3 separate regions of the Homo sapiens genome follow, and all the other regions are linked to region 3. The links come from fine-mapping of genetic effects on gene expression. A gene starts in region 3. Each other region holds a variant in brackets. All regions are shown on one strand. Distances are between the middles of the regions.

Region 1 (2,860 bases), 380 kb before region 3:
CCTCGGCCTCCCAAAGTGCTGGGATTACAGCTGTGAGCCACCGCACTCGGCCGCCTTAGGTGATTTTTAAAAATAACCTGACTCTTGACTATTTTTCAAATGTAATGGAAATTCAGAGTTGTCCAAAATAACCTACAGAGGTGTAGAATAACATGCTGTTTTGATTTATAACTAAGTCTACACACTTATGAGTAAATTAGAACAGATTAAAGCCCTCCAAAGTTCTGATATTTATCAGAGGCACAGCTTCTATTTCAGTTCCCAATCACGATTTTTATCACTAATAATATAATAAATGTAAAGCACTGTCCACAATGGATCTAATTACAATCATGCTATCAGAAAAAAAAGGTTATATTCATGTACATCATGAGAAAACGTTTTCTGTATTGCCATCTCTTTTCAAATAAAAACTTGTTTGAAATATTCTATTAAAAGGTTACGGAAAAGAATAATCAGTTTTGCAATCTGATCAGAAAAAAAGGTTATATTCATGTATAACATGAGAAAACATTTTCTGTATTGCCATCTCTTTTTAAATAAAAACTTGTTTGAAATATTCTATTAAAAGGTTACAGAAAAGAATAATCAGCTTTGCAATCTGATTGCAACAAGAGAATGTACTGTTATATGCAATAACTAGAAAAATAAACTTATGGTATGTTTTTTAAATGCTTATTCAAACTAATCCTACACCAGTAGGATTATCAATAAGAACTCTTTTTTTTATTATTATACTTTAAGTTTTAGGGTACACGTGCACAATGTGCAGGTTAGTTACATATGTATATATGTGCCATGCTGGTGTGCTGCACCCATTAACTCGTCATTTAGCATTAGGTATATCTCCCAAAGCTATCCCTCTCCCCTCCCCCCACCCCACAACAGTCCCCAGAGTGTGATGTTCCCCTTCCTGTGTCCATATGTTCTCATTGTTCAATTCCCATCTATGAGTGAGAACATGCGGTGTTTGGTTTTTTGTCCTTGCGATAGTTTACTGAGAATGATGATTTCCAATTTCATCCATGTCCCTACAAAGGACATGAACTCATCATTTTTTATGGCTGCATAGTATTCCATGGTGTATATGTGCCACATTTTCTTAATCCAGTCTATCGTTGTTGGACATTTGGGTTGGTTCCAAGTCTTTGCTATTGTGAATAATGCCGCAATAAACATATGTGTGCATGTGTCTTTATAGCAGCATAAGTTATAGTCCTTTGGGTATATACCCAGTAATGGGATGGCTGGGTCAAATGGTATTTCTAGTTTTAGATCCCTGAGGAATCGCCACACTGACTTCCACAATGGTTGAACTAGTTTACAGTCCCACCAACAGTGTAAAAGTGTTCCTAGTTCTCCACATCCTCTCCAGCACCTGTTGTTTCCTGACTTTTTAATGATTGCCATTCTAACTGGCGTGAGATGTTATCTCATTGTGGTTTTGATTTGCATTTCTCTGATGGCCAGTGATGATGAGCATTTTTTCATATGTCTTTTGGCTGCATAAATGTCTTCTTTTGAGAAGTGTCTGTTCATATCCTTTGCCCACTTTTTGATGGGGTTGTTTCTTTTTTTCTTGTAAATTTGTTTGAGTTCATTGTAGATTCTGGATATTAGCCCTTTGTCAGATGAGTAGGTTGTGAAAATTTTCTCCCATTTCATAGGTTGCCTGTTCACTCTAATGGTAGTTTCTTTTGCTGTGCAGAAGCTCTTTAGTTTAATTAGATCCCATTTGTCAATT[T/C]TGGCTTTTGTTGCCATTGCTTTTGGTGTTTTAGACATGAAGTCCTTGCCCATGCCTATGTCCTGAATGGTAATGCCTGGGTTTTCTTCTAGGGTTTCTATGGTTTTAGTTCTAACATTTAAGTCTTTAATCCATCTTGAATTAATTTTTGTATAAGGTGTAAGGAAGGGATCCAGTTTCAGCTTTCTACATATGGCTAGCCAGTTTTCCCAGCACCATTTATTAAATAGGGAATCCTTTCCCCATTGCTTGTTTTGCTCAGCTTTGCCAAAGATCAGATAGTTGTAGATATGTGGCGTTATTTCTGAGGGCTCTGTTTTGTTCCATTGATCTATATCTCTGTTTTGGTACCAGTACCATGCTGTTTTTGTTACTGTAGCCTTGTAGTATAGTTTGAAGTCAGGTAGCGTGATGCCTCCAGCTTTGTTCTTTTGGCTTAGGATTGACTTGGGATTGCGGGCTCTTTTTTGATTCCATATGAACTTTAAAGTAGTTTTTTCCAATTCTGTGAAGAAAGTCATTGGTAGCTTGATGCGGATGGCATTGAATCTATAAATTACCTTGGGCAGGATGGCCATTTTCACAATATTGATTCTTCCTACCCATGAGCATGGAATGTTCTTCCACTTCTTTGTAACCTCTTTTATTTCATTGAGCAGTGGTTTGTAGTTCTCCTTGAAGAGGTCCTTCACGTCCCTTTTAAGTTGGATTCCTAAGTATTTTATTCTCTTTGAAGCCATTGTGAATGGGAGTTCACTCATGATTTGGCTCTCTGTTTGTCTGTTATTGGTGTATAAGAATGCTTGTGATTTTTGTACATTGATTTTGTATCCTGAGACTTTGCTGAAGTTACTTATCAGCTTAAGGAGATTTTGGGCTGAGACAATGGGGTTTTCTAGATATACAATCATGTCGTCTGCAAACAGGGACAATTTGACTTCCTCTTTTCCTAATTGAATACCCTTTATTTCCTTCTTCTGCCTAATTGCCCTGGCCAGAACTTCCAACACTATGTTGAATAGGAGTGGTGAGAGAGGGCATCCCTGTCTTGTGCCAGTTTTCAAAGGGAATGCTTCCAGTTTTTGCCCATTCAGTATGATATTGGCTGTGGGTTTG
Region 2 (2,860 bases), 58 kb before region 3:
TAATGGGTTATTAGACCGTAACAGTCTAACGTTTACTACAATCCTGCCTTCTTTTCAACATACTCCTACCTTAGAATTCTTCTCATACTTTTGTAATTATCTCATATTAATTGATTGCATATTGTTTATTTTTGTCCACTGCCAATGTATTTCCATTAGGGCTGCAACCATCACCTATCTTATTCACCATAGTGAACAATGCCCAATCACAGTCTCATTCGTTTGTTTATTCATTAATTGAATAAATAAATATTTATCTCCTATTCCTTATCATGAACTGTTGCATATAGACAAGGTCTTTGGCCTCAGAGTGTTTATTTTCTGCGGAGTTGGGGTAGGATAGAAAGCAAGTATCCAAATAAATAACATAATTTCACATAATTGTAACAGCTACTGCAGAGGGTGGACTGAGCAAATCTGGGTGGATGTACTGTTGAAAAAAAAAAGCCAGTGAAGGCCTCTCTCAGGAGGTAACATATAAACAGAGACGTTGATAATATGAAAGATCTGAGGGGAAAATGTTGCAAGTAGACTGAATTTGTATAAAGATCCTGAAGTGGATAAAGTTGGTGGTTTGAGAAGAAGCAATAAAACCAGCGACCAAGAGAGAGAATGGAAGGAGATGATGTCACAAAAGCAAGACATAGTGAGATCGTGCAGGCAAGGCCTTCTTGTCTCACACTTTTCAAACTTAGCTGTGCATGTAAATCATCTGGAATCTTTTTAAAATTCAGACTCTGATTCAGGAAGTCTGGGCCAGGGCCTGAGATTCTGAATTCCTAACAAGCTTCCAAGGGATGCTAATGCTGTTATTCTGGGGACCACTCTGAAAAGGAAGCTTCTGAGTTATAAAAAGGAGGTTTAGTTTTATTGTAAATATGAATAAAAGCCATGAAAGGGCCTTGGGATGACATAATTGCTTTTCATTTTCAAAGGATTACACCGGTGTGAGGAAAAGCTTGTGGGGGAGAAAGTGTGGAAGCAGGAAGCCATTAGGAAATTGCTTCCGTGAGGCAACAGAAGAGGGTGGTTCAGAGTAGCCCAGGCAACGAAGGAGCCCAGGACACACGGTCACGTTTGGGACATGTTTTGATTACATAGTCAAAATAATTGATGGACTAGATATTGGATGTGAAAGTCAGAGTAATCAAGACTGACTACTCTGCAAATGAACCAGTGAGTGATTTGTGGTTCTTGTTATAAAGATGAGAAAATATGGAAGAAGGACAGCTAGGACAGGATAGAAGTCAAGGGTTTGGTTTCAGATATGCTATTATTGAGAATATCATATTAATGATCAAATAGAAATATTAAGTATAAGT[T/C]GTGTATATATGTTAAGAGCTTAGGGAAGAGCATTGAATGTAGATGGAAATTTGGGGGTCACTAGATTTTAAAGTTATTCAATTAAATGAGCTCATCTAGCAGGGGAGAATTAGAGAAGAGATTTAAGTCTGAGAAGAAGAAGAAAGATCAGCCAAGGAGACTGAAAAGAAGCTACTTGTGAGGTAGGAAAATAATTCAAGAACATGTGACACTCTAGAATTTAAGTGAAGAAGTGCTTCAGCATAGTGGCTAATGGAGATTGGGTAATCAAATAAATACCTGTCAGGGTTCAAATAAAATGAAACTGAGAATTGACCATTGAATGTTGCAAGATGTGGGCATTGTTGCTAACTTGACAAAGGGGTCTTGGTGAATAGGATGATAAATTATTGCCTGGAATGTAGGAAAGCAAGAATGGGAGATGATAAAGTAGAAGCAGAGACAATAGAAAACTCTTTCAAGAATTTTTGCAATAAAAAGGAGCAGAGAATGAGCCATAATTGGAGAAAGATGTTAAATCAAAGGAGTTTTATTTTAAGGTAAGAGATATTGAAACATGTTCACGTGCTGACATAAATGATAGGTGATGAGAAAATATGGGTTATGCAGGTGGAGGGGCTGGCTGTGGAGAGAAGAGAGAGATGAGAGGAAAAGAAGAGTATATATGGGTTAAGATGCATGTATGTTGAGAGGGAAGAAAGTGAGAAGACAAGCACTTTTCTTCTAGATGTTTCTGTTTTGCAATAAAATAAGAATCAACAAACAGTAGAAAATGAGGAAGGAGTATTGGGGATTTCAGCAGTGAAGAATTGGTGGGATATATTCATCTCAGATAGCATGGAGGCAAATTTAAGAGAATGTAGTGGGATTCAAGGGTAGTACTGAGGAGCCATTTAAGACATGGTAATACAATAAACATGAAGTAAGTGGGATTTCTTCTATTAACATTCACCTACTTAGGGAGAAAATGGCAAGGTTGCTGAGGATACATGCAAGAAAGAAATTATAGTAATGAACCATGGCATCTAAACCAAGTAAGAAGGAAGTGAGGGCCTGAAAAAGTGGTGAGTCAATGCATTATATAAATGAGACTGAAGAATAGTTATTAAAGAAGTGAATTGAAAGGCAAGAGTTTCTTTGATTCTTTAGGTAAATAAAACCCTATATAACATACCCCTGAACTCTCCAAAGGTGCAGAACAGTGCAGTTTTTAGCCACATGCACACAGCTTGAGCTGTCATGAAAGTTTCTCAAAAGGCTTACTAGAGATTTCCTTTTAGTAAACATATGAGTTTATTTACTTACTTTTCTCAGAAATACCTCTATTGAGAAAAGCAGGGTTGATCAGTACAGCAACTGTATCCCTTTTGATTTTAAGTATTTTGAAATGTTTTAATGCACCAAACTCAAAAGCAAAACATCATTCAAACCAACAGGCTATTAGAGCACCACCCTTAAGTGCTGCTTTGTCTCTCTGCTTATTACTCTCTCAAAAGCAATAAAACAGAAATCATATCACCAAATTTGAATGTTAATA
Region 3 (2,500 bases):
AATTAGTCGTCTATCAAGTACTGTTTTAATTCATAAAAGTTCCAAGAAAGGGCCAGGCGCGGTGGCTCACGCCTGTAATCGCAACACTTTGGGAGGCCGAGGTGGGCAGATCACGAGGTCAGGAGTTCGAGATCAGCGTGACCAACATGGTGAAACCCCGTCTCTACTAAAAATACAAAAATTAGCCATGATTGCTGGCGCGCGCCTGTAATCCCAGCTACTCAGGAGACTGAGGCAGGAGAATCGCTTGAGCCCAGGAGGCGGAGGTTGCAGTGAGCCGAGATAGCGCTACTGTACTCCAGCCTGGGCGACAGAGCGAGACACCATCTCAGGGGGGAAAAAAAAATCCAAGAAAGAACTGAGTCTGGTACAGAATTCTTGATCCTAAGAAATCCTCCAAATGAAGAAACTTTCAAAGGCTCTGGAAACAATACGAATGATTCTGTCTTCAGTCACAATGATGAACTGAACACAGCTGTCATCTCCCTCCTTCGCACCAAATTCTGGATATTCCAGAAAAGCGCAAGAGAAATAGTGGGAGACAAACACTGGATGCAATCCTCCTATCACCTGTTTTATCCCCCATTCTTACTTCGTCAGAGCTCATTCCATGAAGTGGTAACTTGATGACGATGGAAACATTGGGGGTCCAGCATGGAACTTTTTCCCACCTTTACTTCTTGCCAAAACCTTCCTGGATTCAGTATTGCAATCAATGTTATGGCCCGTTTCCTTTCAGATGCACTTCAAGATTAGCTCTGTCACTGACAACATGGGGAATACATTTCGACCTCCAGATTTTAAAAGTGCCATTATTATTTTGCCATTAGGTAGAAGGCTAAGTCTCAACGTTGTGCTAATAATAGCATCTTTAAGTCCCTGGACTAAGACCTCGGCTCCTGGTTCGGGAATCAGACTGCCTGGGCGGCACTCCAGGCTCCACAGCTCCCCACCTGTGAGCTCCTGGGCAAGTCACTCGGTCCGGATTTCCAGAGGTAGTTTGGGGGAACTGACAGTACACACACCACAGGGCAGTAGTAAGAAAGAGACAATGCAAAGGAATTGGCACAGCACTCAGCAGACAATATAAGCTAATATGTACTCTGTCTACACCCTGCGTTTTAGGGAGTCAATCGAAAGCCTCCACTCACGTGACCACTCCACTACCCGGCGCCAAGACGCGCTGATGTCACGACAGCGTGCGGCGTGCAGACGTCGGCAAGCTGCGCCGCCGCTTCGGGTTGCTTCCGGATCTGGTACTTGGGCAGAGCTCCCCGGGGTTCATTGTCTTCGCTTCACAGGATCTGTTTGAGTCCTGTCCACCGGATCCTACGGGGGGTACCTTCGAAAAAAAACGGGCTATGCTGCTGTTGCGTGTGGGTACCCTCTCCTGACGCCTCCGCCGCCCGGGTCATGTGGACCCTCGTGGGTCGGGGCTGGGGGTGCGCACGCGCTCTCGCGCCACGAGCCACTGGGGCCGCGCTTCTGGTGGCCCCGGGGCCCCGGTCCGCGCCGACCCTTGGGGCTGCTCCAGAGTCCTGGGCTACCGACAGGCTCTACAGCTCCGCAGAATTCAAGGTGACTGCCCCCTGGAATCTGATTTAGCCAAGTTTTCAAACGTTGGAGTGCCCCATGCGATCTTGGACATGTATAGGGCTTTCTGGGACTAGCTCTGAACCCTGCTTGCAACTTGGTACAGGGAGGCAGAGCGGAGAGTGTGAGCACTGCTCAGGTTCCCGACCCTCCACTCCTCACTAGTGTGACCTTGGGCAAGTCACTAACTTTGTAGGTTTTCTCATTTTCAATGTCAAATGTTGATTTGTTTACGCGAGCCACTGGTCGAAGTGCTTTGCGTTTATTCATCTATTTAATTCTAAAAAGCCTACTAAGCAAGTTGCTAGTAAATATTAATATAACGTCCATTTTCCTGCAAATTAAGTAGCTATGTGGCCTGGGCAAGTTACTACATTGTCACTCTCCTACTTCATTTGTTGAATGCAGAACTGATCAAACATCCAGTGGCTAATTTGTGAGATTTGTGTGATGTGAGAAGTGGACTTTTTTAGACTAATACCTAGAATGCAGGAAGTTCTCGGTCTGTCTTTGTAGTTTTATTTCATTCTACCTCAGCCAGAGCAAACCTGTGTAATTTTGACTCTGGTGGGAGAGGGTGGGAGGTTCAACAACTCTGATAATTGTGAATGGATACATTTTAGTCAGAAAAGTGAAGTGACTGAAGGCAAGCTATAAGTAGGCAGAAAGACAAAACCTTAAATTAATCAACTTTGGCCCTAATATGCCTGTGTTTTTAAAAATGGATTTATATTGCAATTCGAAGTATAAAGATGGTGCAATTCTCTATACCTTTTGAACTGAAGGGAAAGAAAATCTACAGGGCAAACATCAGAATTAGTTTTTTTTCGGCAGACTTTCAGCTATAATTGTGCTTTTATTATCTGTCTTTATGGGGCTATTAAAAAACAAAGCTCACGTGAATTTT

Direction of the effects. Alleles are on the strand shown, and positions count from the first base shown. SD is a standard deviation of normalised expression in the study named. Not every link is listed here.
For the expression in skeletal muscle of the gene that starts at base 1,211 in region 3, T is the high allele of the variant in region 2 and C is the other (small effect, 0.30 SD a copy in GTEx).

Evidence for each region. PIP is the estimated chance that this variant, and not a neighbour inherited with it, causes the effect.
Region 1: its variant is fine-mapped to the expression of GUF1 in prefrontal cortex (ROSMAP, PIP 0.95).
Region 2: its variant is fine-mapped to the expression of GUF1 in skeletal muscle (GTEx, PIP 0.92).

What each region holds. Positions count from the first base shown.
Region 1 is chr4:44,299,998-44,302,857 of GRCh38, forward strand. All of the region lies in intron 1 of KCTD8 (potassium channel tetramerization domain containing 8), which reads right to left. The region is part of intron 1 of LOC107986275 (a long non-coding RNA gene); the gene reads right to left. Among named protein-coding and RNA genes, the nearest start is that of KCTD8, 150 kb to the right of the region's middle. The variant T/C (reference allele first, on the strand shown) is at 1,745.
Region 2 is chr4:44,619,496-44,622,355 of GRCh38, forward strand. It overlaps YIPF7 (Yip1 domain family member 7), which reads right to left. Exons shown (of 6, transcript NM_182592.3): 6 at 2,593-2,860. Among named protein-coding and RNA genes, the nearest start is that of YIPF7, 31 kb to the right of the region's middle. The variant T/C (reference allele first, on the strand shown) is at 1,323.
Region 3 is chr4:44,677,210-44,679,709 of GRCh38, forward strand. GUF1 (GTP binding elongation factor GUF1) reads left to right here and starts at 1,211. Exons shown (of 17, transcript NM_021927.3): 1 at 1,211-1,578. The coding sequence starts at 1,414. RefSeq lists an enhancer at 430-1,318 and a silencer at 1,390-1,549.